Linked DNA regions of Homo sapiens. The protein of the gene in region 1 purifies or fractionates together with the protein of each later gene. This does not show direct contact. Each region holds a gene or a part of one and is shown in the gene's direction. Other genes may lie near its edges. The genes, in order: CHDH and COQ8B.

Region 1 (3,913 bases):
ACACCTTCTAAGATCTCCTTTTGATGGTTTGAATGATTTGAGTTTGGGCAAAATTGTCAATCATTTATTTGTCTTTTAAAAAATGAACTCTAAGGGATATCATCAGATTTTTTTTTCCTTTTTCTGAGACAGAGTCTCACTTTGTCACCCAGGCTGGAGTACAGTGGCGCAGATCTCGGCTCACTGCAACCTCTGGCTCCCGGGTTCAAGTGATTCTCCTGCCTCAGCCTCCGGAGTAGCTGGGATTACAGGCGCCTGCCACCATGCCCGGCTACTTTTTGTATTTTTAGTAGAGACGGGGTTTCACCATGTTAGCCAGGCTGTTCCCAAACTCCTGACCTCAGGCAATCCGGCCGCCTCAGCCTCCCAAAGTGCTGGGATTACAGGCGTGAGCCACCGAGCCCGGCCAGACTTGACTTTTTTTTTTTTTTTTTAACAAATGAGCCATCATACCAGGAGCTGAGTTCTTATCAAACGGCCGGTGAGAGGCCAAGCAACAACCCTAAATGCTACCAAGCTCAAATTGTTGGCCTTGCAGCAACTACAGCAAAAGGGATGAATTCTTCCCTTTAGTGCAAAGAGCCAAGAGGGCTTCTGAACTGACACAGAGGGGAAGGATAGGAGCTGAAGACATCAGGAAACAGTGAATGGGGTTTGTCCACCAGCAGGTGACTACGGAGCTTGATGCTATATGCTATTCTAAGAGGGCAGCGGTATCATTTCAAAGGTTATTTGGGGGATGAGCTATTTTCTCTTCAGTGACCCAGAAGATTCCCTCGATCATTCAGGGTACTGGGGAAGAAAGGCAACTGCCTTCACGAGTGAACATGGCAATCAATATGGCCAAAAAGGGAGGGGGTACTAATGGAGAAACAGTTCTTGTGCCCCAACAGGTGAGCAGACCCCAAGTAACAATAACTACGTGCCAGGCCCTTCGCCGCTAATTGCAGGCCATGTCGTTATACCTTAAGAGACCCTGGTGGGTTCGGTACTGCCCTTCGTTTTACCGTTCGGGACTTGGAACTTGGTGAGCATAAATGACAGAACCAACAGTACAGGGTGGCATCTGAGACCGGGTCTGTCTGATTCCCACGCCCCTGACTCAAGCAACCTGACGCCGATGTCCGGGGCTGCCCTGAGGGTGCAGGCATGCCCCTTGAGCCGGCAGTCCGCGCACGCCTTCGGGGCAGCCTGGACTGGCGGATCAGACGACGTCAGGATCTGGGCTCGAGGGCCGGGAGATGAGGGAAGAGGTGCTGGCGGGGGCTTACCGGCTCTCGGGGTACGGCGCTCCTGCACAGCGCGGCCAGGCTTAGCAGCACGAGCGACATCGCCGGGCCACTGCGCGGGATCCAGGCCACCCGCACGCTGCGCTTTTATCCCGGCGCCGCCGGGCCGCCCCTTCTCGGCTCCGCCTCTCGCAGCGCCGACCCATTCCCGCCACCCGAACAGAGGGCGGGCCCGCTGGCCCCCTCCCAGGCTGGGGCAGGTCGCAGCGCCCTCGCCTGCTGGGGCTCGGAGGGATGGGCCGTGTCCGAGCGCTGGCGGAGCACGGGCCGCCGCGGCGCGCGCCTACCCCCGCGCACACGTGCATGCAGTGAGCCAGGTGCATCAGCTGCACCCGCCCTCGGGCTTCGCGCGCCTCCGCTGGAGCCCAGCTAGCCTCGCGGCTCCGGGGCCGACCGGGTCGGAACTGCTGCGTCCCCATTCCGGACGCAGAGAGCGCGCGGGGCGCCGGCGCCGCCGGTTAAAGTGCCGCGGGGCAGGGGCCGGGCCGCGGCCACCCGCTCCTCCCGCTCCGGTCCCGACTGTCGGGCTCTCGGCCGAGTCGCCCCGGGTGAGTAGCCGCGGAGGCGCCCCGACCACCCCGCAGCAGCGCCGCCCGGCCGCTAGCCCGGAGAGGCCTGGGGGCCGGAGGTTTGGGGCCGGGCTGGACGCCGAGACCCGGGCCCGCTTTACACAATCGCCCCGCCGCGCGAAGCGAAACGGGTGGAACGCAGACTGCCGAAGCTCACTGACTCCTTTGAGGGAGCGAATTCTTTCAGCTACGCGGGGTTAGAGCGGTAGGAGTGCCCGCTGCCCGACCCCAGGCTTTCTGGTAAATGTCTGTTTCCACCAAGTGAGTTCGGACAGCAACACCTGGGGCTCCCAAAGCGGAAGCCGTCAGCACTGGCGATTTGGAGCTGCGGTTCTCAAGTTTCCCTGGCCCGGGATCTCTAGCGCCGCCTAAAATGAGATCCAGACGGCAGGTCCGGGTCAGGCCCGGGATCTGCATTTAACGAGCCTCCACCCACGCCCCCGTAATTCGTGGGTGGGTGGCCCAGGGACCATCCTTTGAGACACAGTGGGTTTGGGGGAAAGTTCACAAAAATCAGCTGGGCTAACAGTGGAGTCACAGAGGCTGGAACTGCTGCTTCAGCCCCCTCGGTTTGCAAACGACAGGGTTGTGGTGACCAACTCAGGGCCATTTAAACTTGTAGGCAGAATTAGCTCCATTCTACAGATGAGAAGACGGAGGCCTAGAGAGGGGTATGGAACTTAGGGGTGTGTTGTCAGCTGGTGAGAGGCTGTACTAAGTCAAGCAGCTGTTTTAGCTGAGGCCCTACTTGTGTGCCAGGCCTGGCCCACCTGCCAGCTTGATTAAGGCTTGCATGGACTGGGGATCAGCCAGGGGTTTGGGCTCTGGCATGCATACGTGTGGAGTTGCAGGTAGCATTTTCAGAGAATTGCTCTGTTTCCTGACCAAGGAACTCAGTTGAGGTTGTGGCCGCACCCCTGCCTGGGACTGGGCCACCCTGAGCCCCTCATTCCACCTCTCTGAGTTGCTTTGGGCCCTGTGGCCCTTGAGAACATTTTCAGCTCTAATAGTCATCTTCCTGTTCAGCAAATACCTGCTGGGTGCAAAGGTGAACCACACATGGGTGCTGGCTGATGGGTACTCCTGGAGTGAGGATGAGTGCAGTGAGAATTATTTTCAAGGACACAAGTACCCGCCTTGCTGCGGAAGCCCAGATGAAAACAGCCTCGTCTGCAAGCTCAAGATTGTGAACTTTGTCCCATGGTGCTGAGGAACAATGGTACAGGCTTAAATGGTCATCCATTTTTGGTTTTAGAAAGGCCACCTGGTTGGCTCTGCAGGGCAAAATAGAGGGCTAGTCCCTCTGAGACGAGCGAGCAGGCAGCCATTCACTAACATGCGTTCATTCCGTGAGTATCTGATTCTGTGCTGTGGGCCAGGCTCTGGGCTGTGCTGGCTTTTCAGTTGTGTGCCAGGGCAGGCCCTGCTGTGAGCTTGGTGTTGTTCGGCACACAGGCTTTGAGACAACCAGGGTGCGGAGGTTAGGCCTGGAGACAGGGTTCATGAGTCAGACTTTCTCAGGGGGCAGTGGAGAGGAGAGGAGGATAGAGCCCTGGGGAGGAGAGCTTGCCTGAGGAGGTGGGGAGGTCTAAGGGGCTGCAGCAGGAAAGCCCAGTAGTGAGGGAGGAGCTCATGGGGTCAGATGGGGCAGAGAGACCAAGGGCACTGAGGCTGGTTGGTGGCAGTCACAGGAAGCCTTGGCAAAAGGATAGGGGAGGGGGTTTTGTAAAAAGAGAAGGGCTGAGGTTCTTTCTCCCCCCAGGGGAAGAAGTGTCAGGTGAGGGTGGTCTGGAGGTGGCTGAGCTGTAAGAAGGAGGAGTACTCAGGCAGGGGCTGCCAGGCAGAGACCCAAGACCCAGGCCAAGTGGCTTTCCTGCTGTTCTGGGTTCAGAATGACACTGCCCTGGCCCCCTGGGGCTTAGGGATGGGGTGATACCTGGTTCAGTTTCGTAGTTGGGGCTGTGGAGTGGAGGAGAGGGTGTGAAGGGCCCTGTAGCCACAACTGGAGGTTGAGGTGGGCAAACAGGTGTGTCTGCCTGTCCCCTCGGGGGTTTT
Region 2 (3,813 bases), on another chromosome or scaffold:
CCCATGCAGGAACAGAGTCAGAGACTGATTTGGAAACAGAGATACAAAGAATTGGGAGACAAGACTGAGTGCGGTGTCTCATGCCTATAATCCCAGCACTTTGGGAGGCCGAGGCGGGAGGATCACCTGAGGTCAGGAGTTCGAGACCAGCCTGGCCAACACGGTGAAACCCCGTCTCTACTAAAAATACAAAAAAAATTTAGCCAGGCGTGGTGGGCGCGTGCCTGTAATCCCAGCTACTCGGGAGGCTGAGGCAGGAGAATCGCTTGAACCCGGGAGGTGGAGGTTGCAGTGAACCAAGATTGTGCCACCACACTCCAGCCTGGGCAACAGAGCGAGACTCCATCTCAAACAAAAGAAAAAATAAAAAGAGTTGGGAGACAAGCATTCTTGGAGAAAAACTGAGAAAGGAGAGTGGGTTAGGCTGGGGGCACCCCAGGCAAACGGGCACTCATGTTCTTCTCTTGCACTCCAGGACTGGCTGTGGGCTTGGGGCTAGGAGTACTGGCCGAGATGGCTAAGAAGTCCATGCCAGGAGGTCGTCTGCAGTCAGGTGAGTGAGCCACACTGCCTGGGTTCAGATCCTGGCTTTGCTGTGTGACCTGGGGCAAGTGACTTCACCCCTCTGAGCTCCAGTTTCCTCATGCGGAAGATGGAGGTGGTGATAATTTACCCACCTCTTAGAGTCATTGTGAAGTGCTTTGAACAGGCCTAAACCACTATCAGGGTCATGATTAAGAGAAGCATATTAGATTTTTTTTTTTTAATTTGAGATGGAGTCTCACTCTGTCGCTCAGGCTGGAGTACAATGGCGCAGTCTTGGCTCACTGCAACCTCCACCTCCCAGGTTTAAGCAATTCTCCTGCCTCAGCCTCCCAAGTAGCTGGGATTATAGGCACATGCCACCACGCTTGGTTAATTTTTGTATTTTTAGTAGAGACGGTTTCACCATGTTGGCCAGGCTGGTCTTCAACTCCTGACCTCATGATCCACCCGCCTTGGCCTCCCAAAGTGCTGGGATTATAGCATGAGCCACTGTGCCCAGCCACATATTAGATTATCTGAGAAAACATTTAAGCCATTGGGAGTTCCTAACTTGGAGCAGGAGCAGAAAGCTGAAAATAGAAGTGCCAGCGAGGGTCTGTGTACATCAGAGATGGAATTAGATGTGTAGCATTTGCCGTTATAAAAAATAAAATAAAAAGTTGAGGGTAGGTGGAGGTTCCCTCAACAAGTCAATGTCTTGAAACAAGTGGGGGTGGATATTCCAGATTAAAAACAGATGAAAGAGACATTATTTGACAAATGGAGCATCTGAACCATGATTGCATATCAGTTTGGAAAAAACAGCCATGAAAGACTTTTTGGAGACAAATGGAAAATCTGAATATGGACTGCATGGCAGATGTTAAGGAATTGGTGTTAATTTTCTTACATGTGATTATGGTACTGTGATTGTGTAGGGGAATATCCTTATTCTTAGCAAAGCTTAAGTGCAACTACATGCAAGTGGGTCAGCAAAAAATAATAATAGTAAGTGTGTGGGTACACGCACAGATAAAGCAGACGAAGCAGAATGGTACCATGTTGAATCGAGGTGGAGGGTGTGCGGGTGTGCAGGTGTTCACGATATTATGCATGCAACTTTTCTGTTTGGATTTTTTTCTGTCTTTTTTTTTTTGGAGACAGGGTCTTGCTGTGTCACCCAGGCTGGAATGCAATGGTACGATCATGGCTCACTGCAGCCTTGACTTCCCCAGGCTCAGGTGATCCTCCCACCTCAGCCTCCTGCATAGCTGGGATTATAGACACGTGCCACCACGCCTGGCTAATTTTTTGTATTTTTTGTAGAGAGAAGGTTTTGCCATGTTGCCCAGGCCGGTCTGGAACTCCTAGCCTCAAGTGATCCTCCCTGCTCAGCCTCCCAAAGTGCTGGGATTACAGGCATGAGCCACCACACCCAGCCTGGATATTTTTTTCAAAATAAAAAGTTGAGGGTAGGTGGAGGATTAGGGTTTGGGTATGACCAGCCTGAGTCTACACCCCACTCTGCCACTTCCATGCTATGTGACCCAGGGATAGGTGCTGCACCTCTTTGAGTCTCTTGCTTTCTCACCTTGAAAATTAAAGGATTGATAATTCTTACTTCCAGGTGTGATTGTGGGCATTCAGCCAGAGAATCCACAAAGACACTTAGGATTCTGCCTGGAACAGCTCAATAATGAGCTCAATAACATTTTATTTTATTTTAAATTTTATTTTAAGAGATAGAGTCTTGCTGTCACCCAGGCTAGAGTGCAGTGGTGAGTCATGGCTCACTGCAGCTTTGAACTTCTGGGCTCAAGAGATCCTCTTACCCTGGCCTCCTAAAGTGCTGGGATTACAGCTGTGAGCCACCACAACTGGCCTTCAAAATTAATAAAGGCTTAAGAATTGCTTTGTTGTGCTGTGCTTGCTTCAGCATCACATATAAATAAAAATTGGAATGAGACAGAGAAAATTAGCACGGCCTCTGTGCAAAGATGACACATAAATTCATAAAGTGTTCATATTAAAAAAAGAAAAATAAATGTTTTGCCAAAGCTGAAATGTAATTTGCATATAAACCCAGGTACACATACCTGTAAGTGTATGGCTTGGTGCGTTTTCACAAAGTACATTTGTCCGTACCCAGAGTAAGAAACCCTAGAATAGCTGCTCTCAAACTTCTTGGTCTCAGGATCCCTGCACACCTTTAAAACTGATGAATGGATGAATAAAATGTGATAGGCATACAATGGAATATTATCCAGCCATAAAAAGGAATGAAGGGCTGACACATGCTGCAATGTAGATGAATCTTGAAAACACTAAGTGAGGCCGGTTGCGGTGGCTCACGCCTGTAATCCCAGCACTTTGGCAGGCCGAGGCAGGTGGATCACCTGAGGTGAGGAGTTCAAGACCAGCCTGTCCAATATGGCGAAATCCTGATTCTACTAAAAATACAAAAAATTAGCTGGATGTGGTGGTGGGTGCCTGTAACCCCAGCTACTTGGGTGGGGGGTAAGGCAGGAGAATTGCTTGAACCGGGGAGGCGGAGGTTGCAGTGAACCAAGATCATGCCATTGTACTCCAGCCTTGGAGACAGAGCGAGACACTGTTTCAAAAAAAAAAAACACTAAGTAAAAGCAACCACACACTGAAAAACCACATATTGAATGATTCCATTAATATGAAATGTACAAAATAGGAAAATCTGTAGGGACATAAAGTAGATTAGTGGTTGTCAAGGCCTGGGGAGATTGGGGGAAATGAAGAGTGACTGCTAATGGGTATAGGGTTTCTTTTTTTTTTTTCTTTTTTTGAGACAAGGTCTCACTCTGTCACCCAGGCTGGAGTGCGGTGGCGGGATCACGGCTCACTGTAACCTCTACCTCCTGGGTCCAAGTGATCTTCCTGCCTCAGCCTCCTGAGTAGCTGGGACTATAGGCATGCACCACCATGCCCAGCTAATTTTTGTATTTTTTGTAGAAACAGGGTTTTACCATATTGCCCAGGCTGGTCTCAAACTCATGAACTCAAGTGATCCCGCCCCGACGTCCCAAAGTGCTGGGATTACAGGCATGAGCCAGCACTCCCAGCCAGGTTTCTTTTTTGCGTGGTGTAACTGTCCTAAAATTGATTCTGGTGATGCTTGCACAACTCTGTGAATATACTAATAATCATTGAATTATATAACTTAAATGGTGAATTATAACAGTATGTGAATTATTTCTCAATAAAACTGTTAGAATGAGCCTCCAAAGAGCTTATTTATGTGGATTATAGTTATCA

What was found.
Region 2: the proteins of CHDH (region 1) and COQ8B purify together in Homo sapiens (co-immunoprecipitation; one large-scale study listed by IntAct). This does not show direct contact.

The regions. Positions count from the first base shown.
Region 1 is NC_000003.12:53,844,007-53,847,919, reverse strand, and holds the start of CHDH (choline dehydrogenase, mitochondrial), read left to right. Parts: upstream 1-1,500; 5' UTR 1,501-1,837; intron 1,838-3,913. Other genes in the region: IL17RB (interleukin-17 receptor B precursor), read right to left, coding at 1,272-1,331.
Region 2 is NC_000019.10:40,706,799-40,710,611, reverse strand, and holds part of COQ8B (atypical kinase COQ8B, mitochondrial), read left to right. Parts: intron 1-475; coding exon 476-553; intron 554-3,813.